Linked DNA regions of Homo sapiens: region 1 is linked to region 2. The links come from fine-mapping of genetic effects on gene expression. A gene starts in region 2. The other region holds a variant in brackets. All regions are shown on one strand. Distances are from middle to middle. Region 1 overlaps HDAC4 (histone deacetylase 4). Region 2 holds the start of HDAC4-AS2 (HDAC4 antisense RNA 2).

What was found. PIP is the estimated chance that this variant, and not a neighbour inherited with it, causes the effect. A credible set is the group of variants that fine-mapping cannot tell apart.
Region 1: its variant is the best candidate, but not a certain one, in a credible set for the expression of HDAC4-AS2 in tibial nerve (GTEx, PIP 0.54).

The regions. Positions count from the first base shown.
Region 1 is chr2:239,121,146-239,125,534 of GRCh38, reverse strand. All of the region lies in intron 12 of HDAC4 (histone deacetylase 4), which reads left to right. Among named protein-coding and RNA genes, the nearest start is that of MIR4441, 37 kb to the right of the region's middle. The variant G/A (reference allele first, on the strand shown) is at 2,544.
Region 2 is chr2:239,191,647-239,196,035 of GRCh38, reverse strand. HDAC4-AS2 (HDAC4 antisense RNA 2) reads right to left here and starts at 2,391. Exons shown (of 2, transcript NR_198956.1): 1 at 1,860-2,391; 2 at 1-1,674. The region is part of intron 3 of HDAC4 (histone deacetylase 4); the gene reads left to right.

The DNA of each region.
Region 1 (4,389 bases), 71 kb after region 2:
ACCTGAGTCCCTGTTTCAGGCCATTCCTGCACTGCTGTAGAGAAATACCTCAGACTGCGTGATTCATAAGAAAAGAGGTCTGATTGGCTTCTGGTTCTGCAGGCTGTAGAGGAAGCGTGGTGTTGGCCTCTGCTTCTGGGGAGTCCTCGAGGAAACATTCAACTGTGGTAGGCGAAGGGGGAGCGGGCACATCACTTGGCAAGAGCAGGAGCAAGGGGTGGGGAGAGGGGCCACACACTTCTAACCGACCAGACCTCACCAGAACCCACTCATTACAGTGAGGACAGCACCAACAGACGGTGTTCAGCCGTTCATGCCAAATCCACCCACATGATCCAGCCACCTCCTGCCAGGTCCCACCTCCAGTATTGGGGGCTAGGCTTCAGCAGGAGATGTGGGCAGGGACACAGATCCAAACCGTATCAGTCGTAATAACCGTATCAGTCGTGATAGCCACATTACATGGGAACAGCCCAGGTGTCCATCCTGTGATGCGCGGCCACACGCCGGCACACCGGAATGTCACATAACATGGAATGTCATATAACGCGGCCACACGCCAGCACACCAGAATGTCACATAACGTGGAATGTCATATAACGCAGCCACACGCCAGCACACCGGAATGTCACATAACATGGAATGTCATATAACGCGGCCACACGCCAGCACACCAGAATGTCATATAACGCGGCCGCACGCCAGCACACCGGAATGTCACATAACGTGGAATGTCATATAACGCGGCCACACGCCAGCACACCAGAATGTCACATAACATGGAATGTCATATAACGCAGCCACACGCCAGCACACCAGAATGTCACATAACATGGAATGTCATATAACGCGGCCACACGCCGGCACACCGGAATGTCATATAACGTGGAATGATGTGCGGCCACATGCCGGCACGCCGGAATGTCATATAACGTGGAATGACGTGCGGCCACATGCCGGCACACTGGAATGTCATATAACGTGGAATGACGCACGGCCACACGCCGGCACGCCGGAATGTCATATAACGTGGCCACACGCCGGAATGTCATTCAGCCATAAAGTGGAATGACACTGACAAGCGGCAGCACGGGAAGCCTTGGAAGCAGGATGCCAGGCACGAGAGGCCGCGTGTGGTATGATTTCATGCACATAAAACGTCCCCAACAGACAGACTCACAGAGACAGGACACAGACTCGTGGGAGCCAGGCCTGGGCTGCTGCGGGCAGATGGGGAGCATTTCTGGGGAACAGCGCCTCTTCTTAGGGATGGTGAAAATATTCCAAAATTAGATATGGTGATGACTGCACAGCTCTGTAAATATACTAAAAACAACAAATGATATCATTTAAAAGCGTGAATTGGATGGTATGTGAATTATATCCCAGTAAAGCTGTTACAAGGAAGAAAGAGGATGAGTTGATGGGAGGGGAACGTGGAGAAACCTTTGGCAGATTTGGCGACAGACGGAATCATTTCTCCGTTTATTGTCTCTCCTGTGAAAGTGCCCCCCTCACTCCACCCCACCCCCGTTGCTTCCCTGGATTTCAGGACCGGTCCTGGGTTGTCCACCTGTCCGGAGGCTCAGGGTCTTCTGTGGTTTTCCTGAGGGTGAAAAATTGGGGTTAGGACTGGGGAGGAGATAGACTTTCCTAGCACACGTAGACAGGAGTTGGAAAGTGAAATACCAGGATCCCAGCAAGAGCAGAGGTAAAGCCGTGGGGAGAGACCCCTACACCACCAACACTGCTGCCTCTTCCCGCAGCCCTGACCTCCTGATACCATTAGCCCCTCCTGCCTGCCTGGTCCCAATTTCCTTCTCTCAAGCCCCACAGTTCCAGCCCAGAAGAGGAGTCAGCTCAGCCCTGGCGCAGTGGTCAAAGGCTTTGATTGCGTGGTGTCCGGTCCAGTGGGGCTGAGTCGGGGAAGGCCCCTGGGAGATGGCAGCCGGCTGTGGCCCAAATCCATCCTAGTGTGTGAGCCATCATGGGGCTGCAGGCTCAGGATTGAGGAGATGGGCCCCTTGGGGCCTTGCTCCAGGGTGGCAGCCACGTCAGACCAGATGCCCAGCACAGGCCACAGCCTGGCCCCTGCTGCCCACTGGACACCACAAAATAGGCTCACCACCCCCACCCCACATGCCCCTCCACCCCCAAGCCCTCATCAGCGGACAGCAGGGAACGCATCAGAAATGGATGGGGCACCCAGCAAATCCCCTCATTGGGACGGGAAGGGCACAGGCTGTGGGCGTGTCGGGCGCCTGCCAGGCATCTTTACTCCCAGGTGTCAAAAGCACTTTCACATCCGTCTTCCTAATGCCAACTTAGGTTTGTTAATTTTATTATGTCATTATCTGAGTGATGGGGTAGGAGGTTTGAGGAAGACAGGAAACACCTATTCACATGCCGTATACTCTTGAAGGATTTAGAAACCGGGTACTCTCACTGGAGTTTGTTCTCTGATTGATTTACGGGAGTGAATGACAGTTGATTGAAACGTTTAGACAGTGTTTTCCCAGGATGCCCAGGAAGACAAGAATCTT[G/A]CCCAGGGCCGCCTAACACTGACGTCCCGGCCCTTCCTCTTGGAGGATGACGTCCCCAGGGGCTTGTTCCCTGAGGGCATCTGCCCAGCTCTGGCAGCTGTGAACCCTCCTGTCCCACTGCGCTGCTCCAGCCTACATTGGGGTTGCAGCTGGGGCCGGCTTGGTCTGCCCCTCCTTCAGCCTGTACCTTAGAGGGCAGTTGTTTTGGAAACATCACTGTGAATAAAAAAGAAAGAGAGGCGGCCCGTGCCTAGCCCTGGTGTTCCCTGCAGCCATATGTAGCCACTCTAGTTTTCCCGAGGCCTGCAGCCTGCAGAGCTGCCCCTTTTGGCTGAGAAAACTCCACCAGGTGGACAGGATCGACCCCGAGCTGGCTCTGCTCTCCTCTCCCCAGCCTGTGGTCGGGATGGTGGCAGATGTTTTCCAACTGTGTCAGCTTCTGTTGCCCGTGCCTTGTATGCAGTGGTGTTTATAAGGGTTTGCTGCATGAAGGAACTTTCTGGAGAACGCACACCATCAGAGGGCGAGTGGACCTTGGAACTCTGCAGGTGAAACTGGCCCTCCGTGTTCGCTGGCCACGTCCGGACTTGGCCTCAGTTATGTCTGGTTTGCGAGCAGTGGGTGATGTGTGTCCAGGCGAAATACCTCTTTCTATTAAAAGAGGACGTTCGTTGGAAGGTGTCCTCCACCCCTACAGCAAGAAGCCTTGCTTCTCAAGGTGGTTCTTCCCATGGTTTCTGGACTCTGCACAAGAACCTGCCTCCTGCAGAGCGGAGGGCCTCGGGTGTGTTTCCCTTTAACTTGACATCCTCGGTTTTGAATATGAAAACTTGGACTCATATTTTGGGTGGTCTAATTACGAGTGTGTCCGATTGTTTTAAAATACTGGCAGTTTACCAGTTCGGTTTTGGCCGTGAACTCCAGCCTGACTTTTTAAAAATGTAATTATTCCAAATATGGAGGTGCATTTGTTCTTCCTGAATTGATGAAAGGGGCTCTCAGTGTCCCCAAGGCCTTCGGGCTGCACAGAGCTGCTTCAATTGTTTGCCCGCGTCCGGCTCACCTCCCAAAGCCAGCTCTGCAGTGCAGCCCCAGCCCACAGCCCAGCCAGTGAGACTCAGAACTGAATGTCAAAGGAGAGAGAGAGAGAGAAGCAGGCTTTGTTTGCAGCCATGGCCCAGGGAGGTGACCCACAGGCGCCTGCGTCAGTGCCAAGGCAAGGGGCCTGGCCTGCGTCACAGAGGGCTCTGACGTGGCACCACTGCCAAAGTGACATCCTCCTCAGGCCCTGCCTGAGAGCCCTCGCCGGAGGCCCACGGTGTGGAGATGATCCCTCCTCCAGGCCGAGGGGCGTGCGGCAGCGGGGGACACTTCAGAGGCTTCATCCTCGTGAAAGGGAGGAAAAAGACCTGGGAATGTTGTCACTAAAGGACACTAAAGAGATGCGGCCCCTGGCAGCACACGCCATCCGCAGCCAGCCGGGGAAGGGCCATCCAAGAGCCCTTGGAACAGTGGGGAGGTCTCCTGATGCACAGCACGGTAGACGCGGCTGCCGAAAGCCTCAGGCAGGCAGGTTGCAGTGGCCTTGGGGCCCCTGAAACAGCCCCCCAGGAAGAGAGGCTGACCCCCGCTATGACCCCCACTACCTCCACCGCCATTCATCTGTGCATAGGGGAAGGACGTTTGAGATTTTCTTACAGAGTTCTTGAAGTTTTTCTTTAAGTTTGAAATTTAAAGCTGGGCATGGTGGCTCACACCTGTAATCCCAGCACTCTGGGAGGCCAAGGTGGGTGGATCGTTTTGGCTCAAGAGTTCGAGACCAGCCTGGGCAACCTGGTGAAATCCC
Region 2 (4,389 bases):
GACTGTGTTACCTAAAGAATAGTGCCTCTTTTTCTTCCATATCTGTATGATGGCATGAAATCGCGTCCTGAGAAGAGGACCTAAGCATGTCGTGGAAAATCAGTATGCTTCTTTATGAACATTTATTTTAAAAGAGCGAGAGAGAGAGACTAACAGGTTTTTCTGTTTGTGATTGAGAATTCATTCACAGCACACTGACCGTCTCCCATTGGACTCTGAATGCGGCCTTTGTGCTCTCACTGACGTCAGGAGTCTGATTGTCTTAATATGTTTCTCAAGGCACAACCTATAAAAGCCGTTTTCTGCTGTACCGTAGAATATTCATGAGAATACAGACTTTTTTGTTTTGATGCTGCATTCTTTAAGGAGAGAAGGTTTTATTGTTTTCTTCAGGGTGCTTTGGGTCAAAAGCACTAGCAGCTTCTGTTGGGAACTCGTGGCATTTTGAATGGTTTTTGATACAGAAATAGCACAAGTCACGTCTGACACAGCCGTAGGCGCACGAATGCGTGAATGCGATTGTGGTTCTCATCTCTGCAGCTGGTGTGTGGGGCCGGGCCTGGGACAGCTTGGGCCTCATCCCCACCCACCCGGCTCCCAGGATCCTCATTAGGAAGCCCTCAGGAGCCCTGGGGTGGGTCTCCTTGCCCTGTGAACGCTCCATTTGTGTTATTGAATCCAACATAAATGCAGCATTGTCTTCAGAGGTGAGCAATGGCCGTGGCCGGAGGTGCGCATGGGATGCAGGCGGCGTGTGCTGCTGTTGATTTTCTCTGCTCTGCTCTTAGCTTACTTTAGCAGATAGTGGAGTTTCACGTGGCAGTCCGGTAAACCAAGGCAGTGTGAACATCCCTTCCCCACAATGAGTGAAAATGCAGGAGGTGCCGTAGTGAGAACAGCGACAGCATTCTGCGCATTGGTGAGCCCGACTCCCCAGCCTCGGTGCCCACCGAAGCCCCCTCTGGCTGCACTGTGCCAGTGAGTCCAGGCTCCTTCTCAGCAGAAGGTGGCTGCTCTGCAGGGCCCCTCGCCTCCCTGCTCCTCAGGGGACCCGCACTCTTCCATGTCCGTAGGGAGACGCGCACCGAGCTGGAGACACAGATCTGCGAGGAGTAACTTGCCTCTCTCACCAGCACTGCCAGGGGCGGATCAGCGCCAGCACCTTCCAGCATGCGCTAAACTGCTGGAGAAGCTGGAGTGGCTGGAAGGAGCCCTGCCTGCCTGCCCTCCTCCTCCTCAGTTGCTGGCCTTGGCAGCTCTAGGGTGACCCAGCAGGGGCCTGGAGGAGTAGGAAGCAGCTTCCCAGCTGCAGTCTGCATCATCCTCTCTGTGCTGTCACAGAATGGAAGGTTTTAGCAGAAAAAGGAGTTTGTAAGCGACATTCAGAAGATTTGGGCAGCAGTTTCTTCCCCCATAGGGTCCTGTCTTTTGGGAGTGGGGAGTGCTGGGCCAGGCTGCTCGCTGGCTGTTTCACAGGTGGTGGAATTTAAGAGCAGACTTGGGTCGAGCTGTGACCGTTCAGGTGATGCACGCACAGGAGGTTCAGCTGTGTGCCTGTGAGGCGGGCAGGAGCGTCACCCAAGCTTCAGAAGAGAATTCCCCGGCAGCAGCGTGGCGCTCAGCATGTTCCGTGTCTGACTGTTTTGATTGTCTCTCAGTCCAGTTGACAAATTCCTTTTAAGATGAAATTTGAATTAATTTGCAGAACTTGTACAAATCTCCAAGAAAACAGCTTAAGGAACAGATTAAAGAATGAATGCCTTAGGAATTAAAGCATTAATAGCTCTTGAGTAGACTGGATGGAAAGATGAGTTGTGTAGGTTATCCAGATGAGGCTACATCCAGGGAGCAATTCTTACCTTCAGAGGGCGCTGCCTGTCCTCCTTGGCATCCAAGTGAGCGCATCTCCTCCACGCTCAATGATGAATGCTGGCCGGCATCCCTGTGAGGAACCTTGTGATCATTTTCCATTTCTGAAAACTCCCAGGTGGTGGGGGCCCTTGGCCCACATCAGCATTGACCACCCCGGGCTCAGATCTGGCCAGGTGCCTGCGTTGTGATGGGAATTTCAGTACACTGAATTTTGCCTCTGACCCTGATGAAATAGCTTCGGTGGCATTTGCATCAAGATCATGTTAGTGTCATCTCTATTAGATGCTTTGGAGCAAACATGAACTTGGGTTTCCTTTTAAGATGTCCTGTGATTCCAGATTCAGGGGAATCTGAGAAAAGTTTGAAGAAAGAAAATTCCACTCGGCCAGCCAACCTTGGGTGTGCAGAGCCTGCCCCGCCTTCCCCACTTTGTCCTGAGAAGCTGGGTCCTCCCCAGCACCAGAGTTGCTGCTGCTTCCCCTCGCGCTCTTGGCTGCTCTCCCGGCCCCAAGCCTGAGTGACACTCTAGGATTGCAGATGGCAGGCTGGTCTCTGGGCTCCCCCGTCCCCATGACCCTCCACCTGCACCCAGACCTCTGGGTCCTTGCTCAGGCAGCCCCTGCCCTCGGTGAGACGCAGCCCACTGTGGGCCCTTCCCCTGGGCCTGCCATCAGCTCCTGTGCTCCTCGGCGCCCCAGCGGCTGCCCTGGGCCCGTTCCCACAGCACCTGGCACACAGCAGGAGCCATGAATGTTCTTTGGGAACTGAATGAGGAGTGGAAATGCGGGCATGTCATGTTTTTGAAGTTAATAAAAAAAATCCCTTAAAAGTTGTTTTATGTTCGGTTTTTAAAGAGATTAACACCAGACGTTTACAATGCTGCCCCCTCCCTCCATCTGTGAGAAATTAGAAATGGAGGGGGATGCGCTAAAGCCAGCAGCGGGTCAGGCCTCTGCCCAGCGCCTGTGGTGGGACCCTGTTTCTACATGGGACCTTGGGTGACAGCAGCACATCTTATAAGCAGGGGTCCCACCCAGGCCCCCCACACAGGGATAAATGAGGCGAGACGTAGGCAATAACCCAGCTTCCAAGATGCAACGCTGTGCAGTTACTTATTCCCTGTGCTTATTTGTTCAAGCTAAAATGTCTCTGTTTGACCAAACAGAAAGAATATGAGAGAGACCAGTTTCACCTACAAATATAGACACCAGCATTCTAAATAACATGGTCGTTGTTGATGCTATTTTGTTTTTCTAACTTTATCCCTTCCTGGAGATAAATGCAACTTTGTTCTTCTACATTATACAAGTGTATGCCTTCCCCGATGGGTTCACCCATGGGTGCTGACTGTGTAACTTAGAAGAACAAAGTTGTGTTTATCCCTGGAAAGCACGGGCCCGCTCACCTGAGGCACTCTAGGAAGTCACTGCAGGGCACTGGTCCCAGGAGAACCGCGTGCCAATCACAGCCATGAACGCGGAAGAGGGAACCGCAACCTGACAGTCATTCACGAGACTGTGTGTTCAGGAAAGCATTTAGCACCGCCGTGCTTGTGAGAGCCGGACCCGTAGCCCCCAGTGCCCACAGCAGGGAGCCCGCCAGCTGAGTCTTCTTCAAGAAGCCAGGCCCCGTTCTCTTTTCTCCGAGTTTGCGAGTTTGCTGACTTAGCTCTCCTCCCTGCCTTTCATATATTTTATTCCTTAAAAGAAAGTCTGAAGCAAATGTAGGTGAACGCTGATGTTTCATAAAACCAGCATTGCTTACGCAGTTTTTCCATTTTGCTATATTTTGTCATAAAAATGATCAGAAAAGGGAAGAAAGGAAATGAATAGGGTCCAGTCCTCACCCACATATGGGGTGGGGGAGTGGGTGGACCCCTGCTTTCTGCTCCTGCACATGGAACAGTCCTCACCTATGTGTGGGGTGGGGGGTGGGTGGACCCCTGCTTTCTGCTCCTGCACATGGAACAGTCCTCACCCATGTGCGGGGTGGGGGGTGGGCGGACCCCTACTCCCTGCTTCCGCACATTGAACACGCAGTTTATGTGCGTAGATTCTTCTCACATAATAGCAAATGAAAACCTTTTACTGTGTCAAAGTCGACACCCAATTAAAAACTAAATACATGCATTTTAAAAGTTGGGGGTTGCACTTCACTGATTTGGGGAAAGAAACAGAAACAGTCAGAGAGGAGGATTTCATTTAAAAAACAACAATAACAACGAGGCAGCCCGTGCTGCGCTGTGGAATGTGATCAGATATATTCAGAAGCTTCTGTCACCTTCTGGGTTGCTTTGTGTCTTTTCACTGTCCAGGAAAGTGGCCTGAGCTGGTCTTCGTGGCCTGAGGCCTGGGCACTCCTCAGGTTCAAGCCAGTCCAGCCAGGGCAGCCAGCAGGGCCAGGTTAGGAGCATGATTGACTGCGGTGGGGCAGGGGAGGGGTGAGGAGACAGTGAAGTCAGCCAGAGAAGCTGAGAGCACCCCTCACCCTGGGCACCAGGAGCTCAGGTGACTGCAG